Linked DNA regions of Homo sapiens: region 1 is linked to region 2. Evidence: fine-mapped QTL for protein levels in blood plasma. A gene starts in region 2. The other region holds a variant in brackets. All regions are shown on one strand. Distances are from middle to middle.

Region 1 (8,000 bases), 53 kb before region 2:
AGCCAGACGCTGCTTTGTCCCCAGGGTTAGCTGAACACGGTGTTGTGCTGCTGGGTCACCCGGATGAATGTTGCCCTCCTGCTGAGCTCCTTGAGTTTGGCGGCCCCCACGTAGGTGCACGTGGACCTCAGTCCCCCGAGAATATCCAGGATAGTGTTTTCCACATCTCCTTTGTAAGGAACTTCCACAGTCTTACCCTCAGAGGCTCTGGAAGACGATAGAAGTTTTCTTTTTATCTAGTTTCCCGCCCCACCTTAAGAGCCCAATTAGAATTACTCCCAGCTCCAGCACTTTCTGTAGCCCCCAAGGCACTCAGAAAACCAGACCCCACCCTCTGACCCCATCCCCACATTTCTACCAAGTGCCAAGATGATCACCAGCATCTCAGATGAACACATTCCTCCCGCCCAAAGGGCACGGGCTCATTGCTGGCTGCCCTGCATGTTGCGGAGAGGAAAGTCCTGGTGAGCAGCGCTTGAAGGAGTCAGGGACCCATAACACCCTGCTTGGTGCCATTCTCTCCAGCAACGTGCTCCCCTCTGCTGCTAACAGAAACCACCTTTACCTTTCTATTCTACCTCAACATGCACACCAACTTCCCAACAACCAGGAGCCCAAAATGCCCCCAGAATGGCCCTGGCCGATTCCCCCCTGGAAACAGCCTCCTGTCCTCCTACGTCAACAACAGGAAAAGTCCAGAGCTTCACCTCCCGCCTGTCTGGTCTAAGATCAGAAATCAAGTGTCTTCAAGGGGGACGACCAGGACGAGGAGGACATAAAATGGATAGCGCAGGTCCTACCAGCTTACGTGGAAATCACCAGCAAGGTGATTTCATTGAAGTGGCTCTGTTTTGATAGCCTGCCTGTCTTTCTGCTTTGCTGGGTACACTGGCCACCCCCAGTTCGACTCCCTGTTCTCTTACAGGTCACTACACCTATCACCCTGCACATGTGTGGGTCCAAGCAAGGTGGAATCAGAGGAGAACCAAGACCTGTCTTAGCACCAGAGGCTTCCAGGCTTTGGATAGCAACGTTCACATTTTCAGAGGAGTATTTAGAAACTCAAGTCTGGCCTATGGCATGAACACTAAGCAACATTTCACTGTCCCCACTGAGCCCATGTCCCTCTCTTCACAAAGCCACCAGGTAACACTGCTTGATTGTTACTTGGGTAACACAGGTCATGTCCCCTCACTGCAAAATGGGGATGTGGTCCAGACACATGTATATATTACCAGAATATGTGTATATTACACATGTGTATATTACCAGATGTGTGTATTACCAGAAGGAAATCTGAAATCTAGGCAAAACTCTAGCTCTCATCTAAGGGCCATGCAAGTTCTAACAAGTACCCAAATTCTGGAACTTTCTGTAGCTGTTCTTTTCAGCTGGAAAAAGAGCATCTTTTTTTGAGATGGAGTTTTGCCTTTGTCACCCAGACTGGAGTGCAATGGTGCAATCTCAGCTCACTGCAACCTCTGCCTCCTGGGTTCAAGCAATTCTCCTGCCTCAGCCTCCTGAGTAGCTGGGATTACAGGTGCCTGCCACCACTCCCAGCTAATTTTAGTATTTTTAGTAGAGATGGGGTTTCACCATGTTGGCCAGGCTGGTCTCGAACTCCTGGCCTTAGGTGATCCACCTGCCTTGAAGAGCATCTCTTGACCAGACATTCATTATCTAGAATTTCAAAAGGGGCTTAACTCTTGGTTGCTGAACAGGCAGGACTACCCTTGGGTAAAATCCAGCTACTTAAACCATCAGCCGGTTTAGAGCCCCAAGCTCAGGAAGCCAGTCATTGGCCATACCCAGGATGGTTCAGGGCTCAGCACTCCGTGACCCCAGACAGGCGTCTGTACACTTGTGCCTGCAATTACTGACATTTCATTTTCGTAAGATATTTCCATGGCCTTCCTGGGGCTTCTTGGAAATTTCTAGATTCTCACTGTTGCTTCTCTGCTAAGTGGTGGTGTCGCCTTTTACAAATTCCTTTTTTGCTGATGCTTAAGTCTGCTCATCCGTAAAATGAAGGTACTTTGCCTCCCGGGCACAGCGTGAGAATGAAATAATGATTGGGAAAGAACCAGCAATGTGTACATAACTGTGCCATAAGTAATTTGTCAAAGTCGGGAAGCATTCTCATGACAAGATCATGGTCACGGGCTGAAAACTAAGAGAGAGAGAGAGAGAGAGAGACTCAGACAGAGGTAAGACAGGTGCAGCCGCAAGGCTCAGGCTGAAGCCTTTGGATTAAGGTTCTAATTTCCTCAGCAATTTCCTTCCCTGTTAAAGATTTGAATCCACTTTCAGAACTGAGTCTTGCTACTGCTGAATCTTTTTTTTTCTATTATACCTAAACCCTGCTGAAATTACAGAAGACGTTTTTTCTTTCAGCTCTTTGGTTTCTGTTTGTGCCATAGCCTGCTCTGGTCTTCTTGATTCTATAATTTTTTAAAGAACCCAAAACAGATGCAGCCACGAGGGTGAAAAAGGTACTCCAGGCAAAGCACCTAGCTGCTGCTCACCCATGAAAGCTCCACTTACATTCTGGCACAGAGGACACATGTGCAGGCCCTTGGATGATGACAACAGTTGCTGGTAAAGCACGAAGCTTCTTGAACATAGGTCCAGCTTAGTGCCTCCTCCTTACCCAACCATGCAACCTCCTCCTCTATCAGGGACCGCTTGGGGGAAAGAGGGCCTCGGGGGCTACCTGGAAGGAGTGAATCCCTCATTTCTGATTGGTGCAGTCCCCATCGATCTTTCCCATCCTGCTTTTCCCATACTATAATATCTTTATTGGGGTTCACCACCAAGAGAAAGAGACTTGAGGAGAATGAGAACTGAAGTAAGTCCGCTAGAACCCCACGGATGAATAGAACTCTGGTAGAATACACCCCACTCCCCCCAATCCCCCCACCTACAAATCTCAGTGGAGTTCTGAGATTTTGCTGCTAGCTTGGTATGAACCTTATATAATACATCTGAATCCCAGGTCCTCAAAATGACCCTCTGGGTGTGGAATGAGTGGTAGGAAATAAAGGGTGTCAGTCAGGGAGGGCTTAGGTTTCCACTCCAGCACCGGATAGAGTCTGAAAATTGGAGGGAGAAGCCTGAACTTTCCTGGAAAAAGGCAACCAGCCGATTCACAGGCAACTTCCCTCTGCAGATGGAGAACCTTTGCTCCTGTACCCATTTTGTATAGCTTGTCATCGGCGCTAACCCTGATGAGAGTAACAGTAGGCTCTATGGAGCAGGGTGAGGCAGCGAGTATACTGTCATCAGGTTCTTTTTTTTTTTTTTTGGCAGGGTATCACTCTGTTGCCCAGGCTGGAGCACAGTGGCACGATCATAGCTCACTGCAGCCTCCAACTCCTGGGCTTAAGCCATCTTCCTGCCTCAGCCTCCTGAGCTGCTGGGAGTACAGTCATGTGACACCACACCCAGCTAATTTTTAATTTTTTTGTAGAGACAGGGTCTTGCTATGTTGCCTAGGCTCATCTGGAACTCCCGGTCTCAAGCAGTCCTCCAACCTTGGCTGCTGGAAGCACTGGGATTACAAGCATGAGCCACTGTGCCTGGCCCCATCATCAGGTTCTTAAAACACACATGCAGACAGTTAAAATGGAAGGGAATCAGGAAAAGACCCAGGTGTCTTTGGAGACCATGGATTAAAAACATGCATCAGGAGCCAGGTGCGGTGGCTCATGCCTATAATCCCAGCACTTTGGGAGGTCGAGGTGGGTGGATCACTGGAAGTCAGGAGTTCGAGACCAGCCTGGCCAACATGACGAAACCCCATCTTTACTAAAAATACAAAAAATAGCTGGACATGATGGGGGGTACCTGTAATCCCAGTTATTCGGGAGGCTGAGGCAGGATAATCACTTGAACCCGGGAGGCAGAGGTTACAGTGAGCTGACATCACACCACTGCACTCCAGCCTGGGCGACAGAGCACGACTCCACCACAAAAAAATAAAAATAAAAAATAAAAAATAAACACACATCAGCAGAAGTAAGCCCCACTTCTACAGTGGATGACACAACTGAATGGCTGAAAATGCTGCTGTGTCGGCTCTCGGAGCCTGGAGGAAGGTGAGAAGCGGTATGAGCTGTATGCAGCATTCTTCAGGAAAGGCCTGGCCACCGTGCAGTGGTCTAGACCACACCTATGGCTTTCTGTGCAAGAGGAGAGCCATTCTTCAACTCAATCCTTTCAGCCTGAACTCTTCTCAAGCCAGAGATCTAAGCTTACAGGGATAGCTCAGCACAGGCTCTACTGGAAGGACAAGACAATAATTCCACCTACCCCCAGAGGTCTGAAGTATTCCCTTCAGGACTGGCACCCACTCACATATAACCCTGGTCACACTTCCAACCCATCACCAAACACTGCTGCTCTGTACTTGCTTTTGGGAACCCCAAACACTGCAAATGCTAACTGGATACAAATTAGGGGTCTTTAAAAAGAACCCCTTCCCACGGTACTTTAATATACACAGAGCTGCTATTCAGACCTGCTTCCATCCCATCTCCGTAAGAAAAGCAAGGCCAGGCCTCGAGGGTGCGCCCCGGGGTCACCTCCTCACCTGTACTCAGCAACTCCTCCTGCGTGCTTGTTCATGGCGGTGTCAGAGCTCATCCCGTAGAAGAGCTTGAGCTTCCGTCCGTTCCTCTCAA[A/T]CACTTCTCCAGCACACTCCGTATGACCCGAAAACATTCCTCCCAGCATGACAAAATCTGCTCCAGCTCCTAAATGCCAACGGTGGGGATGAAAGCGAGTAGCAGAGAAAACAGCTCAGGGGAAAAGGCTCTCAAAAAATCCCAGTGCTTGCCCAGTTCACCTCCCTCCCCGCCCAGCTATAGTCAAGAGAAAGGCTGGACCTCTCTCGCCTGTCTCCTCCTGGAAAAAGGGAGAAGGCTTCCATGCAGGGAGAAAGGGCCATGGGACACTGCGAGAAACAAATGCAGCCTACTGAAGGCTAGTGTCCCATATACTGGACCATGCTGAATGGCTTTTAATGGCTAACTACGACCACCTTCCTCAGATCTAACTCTCTTAGAATCACAGAAACATTAAGATTGGGGAGTATTCTGCCAGGCACAGTGGCTCAGCCCTGTAATCCTAGCACTTTGGGAGGCTGAGGCAGGTGAATCACTTGAGATCAGGAGTTCAAGACCAGCCTGGCCAACATGATAAAACCCCATTTCTACTAAAAATACAAAAATTAGCCGGAAATCGCTTGAACCCCGGAGGTGGAGGTTGCAGTGAGCCGAGATCATGCCACTGCACTCCAACCTGGGCAACAGAGGGAGACTCCGTCTCACAAAAAAAAAAAAAAAAAAAAAAAAAAAAAAAAAAAAATTGGGCAGTATCTTAGAAAGCAAGTTACCTAATCTTGTACTTAATGCTATGACTCCTCTATGATACCCCCTCAGGTGTCTGGTCTGTACTTGAAGCTCTCCACACTCTGACACTCCCTGTGCTTATACATCAGGAAAAAGCCTCAGAACAGACTGAAGCTCCTACACTAGACAGCTTCAAGGAAAGAAGTCCCCGTGTTATGGAAGTCGTCTAAAACTCCACCCGCACCATGCTGCTGCACATTAGATTTCCAGAGTACATATTCTGCCAGACTAATCACCGAATGACAGCACATTTCCAGGACAGGCACAGGAGACAGAGGTACTGAAGCTGCCTGTCTTTGTGGGCTATGCTGGAACAGGCCCAGGGCTGGTTCTATGTTGATCCAAAGTGCACAGCACATGATAGACGCTGAATGATTAGCTGTCAAAAAAGTAAAAACGTGGGAAAAAAAGTTATCATTCCCCATTTTGTTCATGGATCACTGTGCAGTGGGATTCTTCATTGCCTATTAACTAAGGAACTGCTACTGTGTTCGGAACTGGTGGGTTCTTGGTCTCACTGACTTCAAGAATGAAGCCATAGACTCTCACTGTGAGTGTAACAGCTCTATAAGGTGGCGCGGCTGAGGCTTTTTCCTTCTGGTGGGGTTGGGGTCTGCGCTAGCTCAAAAATGAAGCTATAGACCTTCCCGGCAAATAGCACAGCTCATAAAAGCAGTGTGGGCCTAAAGACCGAGCAGCAACAGAATCTATTGCAAAGAGCGAAACAACAAATCACCCTCCCAAAGAAAAGGAGCCAGAAGGGTTTGCCACTGCTGGCTCCGGCAGCCTGCTTTTATTCTCTTATCTGGCCCCACCCATATCCTGCTGATTGGTAGAGTGAGTGGTCTGTTTTGTCAGGGCGCTGATTGGTGTGTTTACAATCCCTGAGCTAGACACAAAGGTTCTCCACGTCCCCACCAGATTAGCTAGATACAGAGTGTGGATTGGTGCATTCACAAAACCTGAGCTAGACACAGGATGCTGGTTGGTGTGTTTACAAACCTTGAGCTAGATACAGAGTGCCCATTGGTGTATTTACAATCCCTGAGTTAGACATAAAGGTTCTCCACGTCCCCACCAGACTGAGGAGCCCAGCTGGCTTCATCCAGTGGATCCGCACTGGGGCTGCAGATGGAGCTGCCCACCAGTCCCACGCCCTGCGCCTGCACTCCTCAGCCCTTGCATGGTTGACGGGACTGGGGGCCTTGGAGCAGGGGGCGGCGCTCATTAGGGAGGCTCCCGCCGCACAGGAGCCCGTGGAGGGGGCGGGGAAGCTCAGCCATGGCGGGCGGCAGGTCCCGAGCCCTGCCCCGCAGGGAGGCAGCTAAGGCCCAGCCAGAAATCCAGCGCAGCGCCAGTGGGCTGGCACTGCTGGAGGACCCAGCACACCCTCCGCAGCTGCTGGCCCGGGTGCTAAGCCTCTCATTGCCTGAGGCCGGCAGGGCCAGCCGGCCGCTCCGAGTGCAGGGCCTGCCAAGCCCACACCCACCCGGAACTCCAGCTGGCCCGCAAGCGCCTCGCGCATCCTCGGTTGCCACTCGCGCCTCTCCCTCCACACCTCCCTTCAAGCTGAGGGAGCCGGCTCCGGCCTTGGCCAGCTCAGAAAGGGGCTCCCAGAGTGCAGAGACGGGCTGAAGGGCTCCTCAAGTGCTGCCAAAGTGGGAGCCCAGGCAGAGGAGGCGTGGACAGCAAGCGAGGGCTGTGAGGGCTGTCACCTCTCACTACAGCCTCCCCTGAGTAAGCCCTACTGAGGGTTTACCTTTAGAACAGAACAAGACAGTAGCAGGGCGCAGATGTATTAAGTAATAGGATGAAGGAGGAGGGGAGCCTGGCAAATCCTAATCAGGAGGAGGAAACATAGGAACCCCTGAAAGTGGCCCTGATGCCTTCAATTTGGTCATTTAAACATTGGCAGAGCACTCTGAGGTTTTCATTGGCGTTACAGTTCAGCATGACAGAAAGGCGAGCTTTTCTAGCACTCAGGGAAGCAAAGCACAACGCAACCTTCCTAAGTGGCAGCAACCTCTTAAGACCCTCCCCTTTCAGGGTTCCTAACACGAATGCTGACTCCCTGGTCCTCCTGCCATGATTTTAAGGAGGCAGAGGATAACTGGTGTCCAGCCAGGATTCTTGACAATTCAGGAGCACAGCACCTCTGCGGCAGCTGCAAAGGAGCAGATGTCAACAGCAGGAACGCAGAGCACAGACCCACTAAAGAATGCTTTGAGGGGGTTCCCAACCATTTTCATTTCGGGACACCCTTGCATCCTTCCCTGACAAGGTCCCTCTCGCTCCACTGAGTCTCGGCACAGGTACGGCCGCACTGACTGAGAGACAGTGGAGGAGGGAATGGCACCCAAAGGAGACTGAGCTGAGTGTGGTCCAAAGGCCAGGAACTGTGATCTACAAGGCACTTCTCAACGACCAGTCACTTTAAAGTGTGTTTGGCTCTCCCTCTGTACAGAGAGCATGTGTGAGGCAACACAAAAGAGTCCAAGATGGACCACCACCTGTATTAAGTAGATTCAGCTCAAAAACCAATCATAAAAATGCCCTTGGCCAATGATCCTTACAATAAAGGGTAAGTGACAG
Region 2 (9,772 bases):
TAGTCCAATATGACTGATGTTCTTATAAAAAGGATAAATTTCAGGGCACATAATCCCAGCACTTTAAGAGGCCAAGGCAGGCGAATCACCTGAGGTCGAGAGTTCAAGACCAGCCTGACCAACATGGAGAAACCCTGTCTCTACTAAAAATACAAAATTAGTTGGACGTGGTGGTGCATGCCTATAATCCCAGTTACTCGGGAGGCTGAGGCAGGAGAATTGCTTGAACCTGGGAGGCGGAGGTTGCGGTGAGACAAGATCACGCCATTGTACTCCAGCCTGGGCAACAAGAGCGAAACTCCTTCTCAAAAAAAATAAATAAAAAATAAAATAAAAAGGAGAAATTTGGACACAGATGCACACATAGGGAGAACCTCATGTGGAGATGAAGGCAGAGATTGGGGACAACTGTCAGCAAACCAGCAGAAGCTGGGAGAAGGGCAAGAAACAGAATCTCCCTCCCAGCCCTCAGAAGGAATCAACCCTGCCAACATCTTGGACTGGGACTGCTACCTTCCAGAACTGTAAGATAATAAATTCTTGTTACTTAAGCCACCAAGTATGTGGTCCTCAGTTACAGCAGCCCCAGGAAACCAGCATACAGGCAAAGGTTAAAAAAAAAAAAAAAAAGTAATTAGTGACAGAGCTTGGACTAAAACACAGGTATCCTTCCTCCCAGCCACTCTGCCATGTTCTCATCCCCCTCAGGCCAACCAGTAGCAGACGGTGAAAGCTAGACCAGAACTCTTCTCACGGGACTGCTGGGGAAAAAACTGCTATGAAGTTTTAAGCAGACTGAACATCTGTTGTGTCTTCTCTGTCCTTAAACAAAATGAGTAATTTGCTGCGATTCTCTTCAATGCCTGATAATTTATTAATAAGTTTTTTAGGGGTTTATTTTTTGTTTTTGTTTTAATTCTTATCAGCTGGGTGCAGTGGCTCACACCTGTAATCCCGGCACTTTGGGAGTCTGAGGCAGGCAGATCACCTGAAGTCAAGAGTTCAAGACCAGCCTGGCCAACACGGTGAAACCCCATCTCTACTAAAAATACAAAAATTAGCAGAGCGTGGTAGGTGCCTGTAATCCCAGCTTCTCGGGAGCCTGAGGAAGGAGAATCGCTTGAACCCAGGAGGCGGAGGTTGCAGCGAGCCAAGATCACACCACTGCACTCCAGCCTGGGTGACAGAGTGAGACTCCGTCTCTAAATAAATAAATAAATAAGTACATTCTTACTAGCTTAAGGACTAGAGTAGAATGTTAGAGCCAGAAATGGGTACTAAGGAAGAAAACACTCAGGGAGAATGCAGGCTCCCCAGCGTAACAGATGAAAACAAAGGTCTTGTCTCAATCCACAAACTCATCACTTCTCAGAAAAAGATTATCCAAATGTCCCCACATGACCCTGTGGCGCTTTATTCTTCCATGCCAGGGGCTGGACATTTGAGAGATGAATGCCTCCCTGGAGAATCCAGGCGAAGGCCACCTGGGCCACTGCTACCTGTATTCTTTGCCTCTCAGAGGTGACCTCAGATTCATCTCATTCATGTTCATTTATGGAAGGCTGGTGGAAATGTCCTTGCAGGAGTCCTGAAGCTTCTGAGGGGGAGATCACTCTTACTGTCCGTTTCCTGCTATAGCCTGATGATCCATTGCTGGGCCTGGCTCTTAGCAAAACTGTCACGAGGATAAGCCCATCATCAGCTGTCAAAACCCTCCTCCCTCAGCCAGACTCTACTCCCAGGGTGTACGTTCTCTTTCCTGGCTCTGTACAAATCTGCTGTTAGGCTCAATGTCGGTCATCTACCCTTCAGTTTCCAATTTGCCTCCAGATATTACTTCTGCCAGGATGCACATATTTTAAGCTTCTGATTGTGCAAGGAAAAGTTTTTATCTGCCTGTGAAAAATTTCAGGCATCAACAAGCAAACTGAGAAAACATTGAGAGGGGATTAGGGAGGCCTAACTAGATCCCTCAACGCCACCGAGGCAAGTAAAGTCAGATCATGGGGGTGGCCAGCCAGGCAGCAGCCTCACGCATCAGGGAGCTAAACCATCACGGCAACCGATTAGAAAGGCAATGCTGGTTAACCTGAGTCTCCAGGCCCGTGGCTGGCAAACTCCCACGAACATAAAAATACAAAAGAGACTCCTCAAGGGCACTGAGTTCTCACTGCAATGTGTACATGAAGATTGCAAAGATGCTATCCCAAACTGGAACATTAGTTACAATCTGCCCAAATTATGAAGCCAAGTGTTGCATGACATTGTCGCATGATGTGATAGTATTCCCCGAGAAGGAGTAATTCATTCTATTACATAAATTTCATTTTAGCTTTAGAGACAGGGTTGTCCAGGCTGAAGTGCAGTGGCACCATCATAGCTCACTGTAACCTCCAGCTCCTGGGCTCAAGCCATCCTCCCGCCTCAGCCTTCCAAGTAGCTGGGACTACAGGTGAGCACCACTGCCCTAATTTTTTAAATTTTTGTTGTAATCTCCAGCTCGTGGGCTCAAGCCATCCTCCCGCCTCAGCCTTCCAAATAGCTGGGACTAGAGGTGTGCACAACTGCCCTGGCTGATTTTTTAAATTTTTGTAGAGCTGAGGTCTTGCTTTGTTGCCTAGGCTGGCCTCGAACTCCTGGCCTCAAGCAATCCTTCCACCTCAGGTTCCTAAAGTGCTGGGATTACAGGTGTGAGCTACTGTGCCTGGCCCTATTACATTAATGTTCAATATTTTACCTTCTCAACATGTTTTCTGGTTCAGAAAATAGGTATATCTTTGTTTTGAACATCCAATTTTCTGAAAAATGAGTTTCTCTCTTCTAAATACATTTTGAATATTTAAAGAATATTGAGGCCACCAAATTATTAGCACATCCAGAATCCCCCTATTTCATCTTGGTCTTGCCTTAGGAATTGGCTACAGCTCATGCTTCCAGAGGCCCAGGCCTGCCCTCCAAACTGTTTTTGTTCCAAGAGAGGCCCCCTCTTTAGCACCTGAAAGGTCATGAGGGACAGGCACAGGGTCACCCAATCTGGGGCGATAAGTTTTAATCATTCCTCCCCTACGTCCTCCAGTCCTGCCGGGCTCCAAACCAGCCAATGCTGCTGCTTACAGAAGGCCACTTGGTTTAGTCATTGGCTAACGCGGAGGCTTCCCCAATCCAAGCAAGCCCTCGGCTGGCAGCCCCAGGCACTGCAGTTAGGCCTGGCACCGGAGTGGGCAGCGGACTTCTTTGCTGAGGGGATTTATTTATGGTCTTGTTTGTGGAGCTGAGTGGACGGAGCTGTGCAGGTTGGCCCAGCCTCCTCGTGTTTACTCCTTCAGCCCCAGCCTTCAACCGTGTCCGGTTTCCTCACCTTCCTCTCCAGCTCTCAGCAAAGCCAGTCACCAGCGCACACCACCCCGGGGCACTCTGCCTTTCAGGCAACTAGTTTATCCTTCAGGGACTGGCCTCCCTTCCCCCAGCCTCAGGCTATTTCCAGTCCGGTCTCCACCTGTTCCTTAGGATTTGAGGACATCCAGGCAGAACCAGGGAAATGCCCGAGGCTTCCAATTCGCCCCCACCTCTCTCACCCCAAAGCTTTCGAAACTCTTCTCCAGGGCTAGGCTGGGACCGCGGGCTGTCCAGTACCGCTGAGTCCCCAAGCCCCACTGCCAGCAAGGCCGCCAAACTCAGAAAGGAAACCCTGAACTTGTGCCCTGGGTTCTGGTTTTTCAGACGCGTTCACGAAGTTCCACCGCTGGACCCGAAGCGAAAGCAGCAGCAATTATCAGCACTAGGAGACGCAGCCAAAAATCACCGGGATCTGCAGTTGTTTTTCTCGTCCTCTCTCCCCTAGCTCCAGTTTCCTTTTCTTGCTATAAGCGCCCTCGTACCCCTATTCCTTCTAAACCAACTGGCCACTGGATCTCGCTCATCTGTGGTCGAGTTTCACTGTGAACTTCCCCTAGGCCACCCAACGGGACCGACGTGTAGAGAATTTCATGGGCCCCCGTATCACCGCCCTTAAAGACACCTCACGTCCTGGCAGGTGCTGGGGCGCGGGAACGGGGGCGCAGCGCCCCAGTCTCAAACACCAAAGCAGGCAGGGTAACCCGGTGCCACCCCCTTCCACCCACTTGCCCCGCGCCACCCGGAAAAAAAAATCCCACCCCACTGCGACTTCCGAACGTCCCCCACCTCGGCTCGGCTCTTGAGGCTGCTCCGCTTAGGTCGGAGCAGGACATCCTTGAAGTCGAGCTTGAGGTCCGCATCTATGCGGGGCATGGTGCAGCGGCTCCTGGCTGCGGCGGCGGCGACGGCGGGGCGGGGGCGCCTGCGCGGGGCGGCGCGGGGAGCGCCGGGGCTGCTGTGCCGCGGCCGGGAGCTGGCGTGGGCCGGGTGCGCACGCCGCGGTCTTAAACACGCCCCGCCGACCCGCGGTCACGCTTGGCCCGCCCCGGGCACCGCCTCCGCCTCAGGCAGGGGTTGAGAGGCAGACTGGTTAGGGACAGATTGGCGGCGAAGCCCTTCCTCCTCGCGCCGCCGCCCCCGTCCTTCCCCCTCAGGTGTACAGCCCGTGGCAGTGACCGAATGGGGACGGGGGAGGGAAATGCGCACCGTTCTGTTTGTCCCCAGGGTCCCCGATGGAGAGGGGACTTAGCGTGTGGCTGCCTTATCCAAGGGAAAAGTCGCTCCCTGAGAGCTTTTACTTTTTTTTTTTTTTTTTTGAGACAGTCTCACTGTCGCTCAGGCTGGAGTGAGTGGCGCTATCGCCGCTCATCGCAGCCTCGACTTCCTGGGCTCAAACGATTCTCATGCCTCAGCCTCCTCGAGTACAGGCGCACGCCGCCACACCCAGCTTATTTTAAAAATTATTTCCTAGAGGCGGGGTTTCACCATATTGCCCAAGCTGGTCTCGAGCCCCTGACCTCAAGTGATCCGCCTGCCTCGGCCTCCCAAAGTGCTGGGATTACAGGCGTGAGCCACCGTGCCCGGCGGATTCTCCTTTTTTAAAATTCAAGCCCGGTGTGCTCACCCAGTGTTGAGGAGCACGTCTCTCACTTGCCAAAGAACCAGAAACCCCAGGGAGGTTGTATAGAATTAAGGAAAAGAACGTGGGCAGTTAACTGTTTAGCTGTACTGGGATTGTGGAGGCCATGATTCCCTTTGGACTTGTTGTTAAGAGACAAGGTCTCACTGTGTTGCCCAGGCTGGTCTTGAACTACTGGGTTCAAGCAATCCTCCCGCCTCAGCTTCCCAGTGTTGGGACTACTGGCGTGAGCCACTGCGCCCAGCCTGGATTTCAGGATTTTTGTTTAAGAAAAACAGTGAGGTCTGTAGTCGACGCAGATCCTGAGATTTGAGGAGCCTGAGTCCCCTCTGAGGGTTACCAGTGATGTGAGTTCGAGGGGTTACCAGTGATGTGAGTTCATTGATTCACTTATTGACCTTACCGACCTTTTATTATACATTTGAAATGTGCTGCCGGGCTTCATGCATCATCTCATTCACTCTCAGAACAACCCAATGAAGAAAGAGCCATTTCACAGATAAGGAAAAACGAGGCTTCTATAAATGAAATAACTTGCCTAAGGCCGCAGAAAAATTCAATATAAATTTCTCAGTCCTTAAAACTTGCTACAACTATTCACTGAAGCTGCTTTTGTCCTGGAACATCTCTGCCTGAGTTTGAAACCTGGTTCCACCACTGTCTAGCTAGGTGACCTTAGGGGAGTCAATTTCTCTAAGTCTCAGTTTTCTCATAAAAGGGGTGGGGGCAGGAGGGGGGGTTAACCCTATCTCCTCCCTGGTTTTTGTGAGAATTAAAGTGTGTGTGTTTATGTAAGCACAATGTCTGTCCCATAGTAGTTGCTCAATGCATGGTAGTTACAGATTTGTAGTCACATGTTACATTATGTGCATTGTGTTTGTATTTTCAAACTAGAATGCTAACTGCACAAAGGCAAGAATCATCTTTCATTCTCTTCCATTTTTCTGCAGCCTCGAACTGAGCTAGCAACTGTTCTCCTTGAGCTAGCATGTGATAAGGCTGACCATAAAAGATACATCACAATATTCAATTTAACACAAATGTCTGAAGATGATAAAGGTCTCAGCCCATCCCACATGGTTTCATTAGCTATACCCCAAAGGAAGTTCATGAAGTTTCAGGGAAGGAAATGAAACTTATCAGAGAGAATGAAAGTAGCCACAATTAGTCCAGCCCATGCAATGTTTATAACCCTTGACGAATTCTTGGGAGCTGGCCAGATGTGCTGCTTATTTGTGAAGTACGGAAAGGAAACCTAATTCTGATCTTTTAAAGATTAAATAGAGGTAAAATATAATTACTAGATGGTATGATTATTTTTAAATTATTATCCTTAAAGGGAAGAGAAACTGACCTTGTTAAGCATCTGCCAGCGTGGATGAGGGCTTTATTCATTGTTTCATACATGGTCTTAAAGGAGAAGCTTCTGTAGGTTGTCCTTGCTCTTTCCCTCTGGTTCTCTTTCTTTCTGGCTAGCCCTCCTTTTATTAGAATAGACAGAGAAGTTCATTTTACACATTCCATTCCCTCTCCCTCTGGAACATTCCTCTATAACTGCCCTCTTCTCTGACACAAAATCATACTCCTGTTAGAGTCAGCCTGAGTCCCTGATTCTTCTAAAACCGGCTTTGCAAAAATTATGACAGTGAGAAAAATCTGACATAGGAAAATGACAACAGTGAAAGAAATCTGACCTAACTGACTCCATCTTGCTTTTAACCGCCAAGGTGTCCTTGTTCATTCCTGGGTGTAGGTTGAACTAACTATGGGAGGAATTGAGTTTATAGTTTAACTTTGAAACAAAGATGAGAACAGCACGTTCCCAAAACAAACCCCCTCCTGGCTTGGGGACCAGCGCACCTTTGTAAAACTAACAAAGTAGCTACAGATTACAAATCATGGCTCAGGCATCATGTAGCCAGAGGCCATAAGATTCCCAACCTCCCCAGTTGCTCCTATGAATAACATCACTATTGAAAACCTAAGATTGGTGTTAGAGATATGTTTCAGTCAGTCCCCCCATTCTGATGGACCAGCTGGCACCACCCTGACCAGTAAACTGGCTCAGCTAGTTCTGTGATCCCACTCGGAAACGGAAGACAGCAAGGAAAACCCACTTCAACAGCCTATTATTTCATCCCTTACCTGACCAATCAGCATTCCCCACTCCCTAGTTCCTGCCCACCAAATTATCCTTAAAAAAGCCTGGTCTCTGAATTTTTGGGGAGACTGATTTGAGCAATAAAACTCCAGTCTCCTGTTAGCTGGCTCTGCATTTATTAAACTCTTTCTGTATTGCAGTAATGCTGTCTCAGTAAATTGGCTCTATCTATGCAGCAGGCAAGAAGAACACATAGGGCAGTTCCACTCCCACACCAACTGAGACTCCTTTCAACATCCTCTGCTTCTCATTACTCTAATACAACAATAATAGTTTCCCATCAGTACAATGACTTTATGTTAAAGTTTTCACTGTCTAGACAAAGCCATAAGTGATATCCAGAGTTCAATTTATTAACATTTTATTATGGGAGGGGAGGGTTATCCCCAAAATTACATGGGAAGATAACCTCCAAAATTATGTGGGATAAATTCCACTTGGTCACAGTGCATAATCCTTTTTTGTATTGATGGATCCTATTTGCTAATATTTTGTTAAGGATTTGTGCATCTGAGCTTATAAGGGACATTACTCTGTAGTTTTCTTTTCTTTTGATGCCTTTATCAGGGTAATAGTGGCCTCATAGAATTAGTTGGGAAATGTTCCACGCTCTGTTTTCTGAAAGAGCTTGTGTAGGCTTGGGATTAGTTCTTTAAATATTTAATAGAATTAACCAGTGAACTAAAATTATGTGAAGTGATAAAATGGTTTATTTTTAGTAAATAAGTATCTCTCAAAACCCAGAAATAAAGTTAAGTATTAAAGGCTTTTTGATAATTCAGAATTATAGTATTTAATATTAAGGGATAAGAGCAAATCTGGAGGCATCACACTACCTGATTTCAAACTATACTATAAGGCCATAGTCACCAAAACAGCATGGTGCTGGTACTGGTATAAAAATGGGCACATAGACCAGCGGAAAACAATAAAGAACCCAGAAATAAACCTACATACCTACAGCCAATTGATCTTCAACAAAGCAAACTAAAACATGAAGTGGAAAAAGGACACCCTTTTCAACAAATGGTGCTGGGATAATTGGCTAGTCACATGTAGGAGAATGAAACTGGATCCTCATCTCTCACCTTATACAAAAATCAACTCAACATGGATTAAGGGGCCGGGTGAGGTGGCTCATGCCTGTAATCCCAACACTTAGGGAGGCTGAGGCAGGCAGATCATCTGAGGTCAGGAGTTTGAGACTAGCCTGGCCAACATGGTGCAACCCTGTCCCCACTAAAAATACAAAAATTAGCTGGGCATGGTGACACCGGTCTGTAGTCCCAGGTACTCGGGAAGCTGAGGTGGGAGAATTGCTTGAACCCGGGAGATGGAGTTTGCAGTGAGCCGAGATTGGGCCACTGCACTCCAGCCTGGGCGACAGTGTGAGACTCCATCTCAAAAAAAGAAGAAGAAGGTGGATTAAGAACTTAAACCTAAGACCTGAAACTATAAAAATTATAGAAGATAACATTGGAAAAACCCTTCTAGACATTGGCAAGGATTTCGTGACCAAGAACCCAAAGCAAATGCAATAAAAAAAAAAGATAAATAGCTGGGACCTAATTAAACTAAAGAGCATGGCAAAGGGAACAGTGAGCAGAGTAAACCGACAACCCACAGAGTGGGAGAAAATTCACAATCTATACATCTGACAATGGACTAACATCCAGAATCTACAACAAACTCAAACAAATCAGTAAGAAAAAGACAATCCCATCAAAAAGTGGGCTAAGGGCATGAATAGACAATTCTCAAAAGAAGATATACAAATGGACAACGAACACACAAAAAAATGCTTAACATCACTAATGATGGGGGAAATGCAAATCAAAACCACAATGCGGTACCACCTTATTCCTGCAAGAATGGCCATACTCAAAAAATCAAAAAACATTAGGTGTTGGTGGCTGGGCACGGTGGCTTGCACCTGTAATCCCAGCACTTTGGAAGGCCAAGGCAGGTGGATCCAGACCATCCTGGCTAACACAGTGAAACCCCATCTCTACTAAAAATACAAAAATTAGCCGGGCGTGGTGGCACGTGCCTGTAGTCTCAGCTACTCGGGAGGCTGAGGCAGAAGAATTGCTTGAACCCGGAAGGCAGAGGTTACAGTGAGCAGAGATCACGTCACTGCACTTCAGCCTGGGTGACAGAGTCAGACTCCATCCTAAAAAGAAAAATGAAAAAAAAAAAAAAAACAATAGATGTTGGTGTGGATGCGGTGAACATGAAACACTTCTACACTGCTGGTGGGAATATAAACTAGTACAACCACTATGGAAAACAGTGTGGAGATTCCTTAAATAATTAAAAGCAGAACTACTATTTGATCCAGCAATCCCACTACTAGATATCTACCCAGAGGAAAATAAATTATTCGAAAAAGATATTTGCACACACGTTTATAGCAGCACAATTCACAATTGCAAAAAGTGGGCTAAGGGCATGAATAGACAACCTACACTACAACCTCCACCTCTCGGGCTCAAATGATTTTCCTGCCTCAGCCTCTGGAGTAGCTGGAACTACAGGTGTGCTCCACCATGCCCGGCTAATTTTTGTATTTTTAG

Alleles and levels. Alleles are on the strand shown, and positions count from the first base shown. The strength of an association depends on the size of the effect and on how common the allele is.
For the plasma level of the protein whose gene starts at base 4,376 in region 2, A is the low allele of the variant in region 1 and T is the other (strong association).

Evidence for each region. A credible set is the group of variants that fine-mapping cannot tell apart. PIP is the chance, under the fine-mapping model, that this variant and not a neighbour inherited with it causes the effect. Protein levels are from antibody-based Olink assays in UK Biobank. Linkage for the fine-mapping came from a reference panel and not from the study's own genotypes, which makes the PIPs less certain.
Region 1: its variant is the best candidate, but not a certain one, in a credible set for the plasma level of the GMPR protein (UK Biobank, PIP 0.85). The variant lies in the coding sequence of GMPR. If it changes the protein, the assay may bind it differently, which can mimic a change of level.

What each region holds. Positions count from the first base shown.
Region 1 is chr6:16,287,213-16,295,212 of GRCh38, reverse strand. GMPR (guanosine monophosphate reductase) reads right to left here. Exons shown (of 9, transcript NM_006877.4): 8 at 4,592-4,751; 9 at 1-207. The coding sequence ends at 27. Among named protein-coding and RNA genes, the nearest start is that of GMPR, 53 kb to the right of the region's middle. The variant A/T (reference allele first, on the strand shown) is at 4,683.
Region 2 is chr6:16,233,191-16,242,962 of GRCh38, reverse strand. It overlaps GMPR (guanosine monophosphate reductase), which reads right to left and starts at 4,376. Exons shown (of 9, transcript NM_006877.4): 1 at 4,183-4,376. The coding sequence starts at 4,269. RefSeq lists silencers at 4,274-4,373, 4,494-4,593.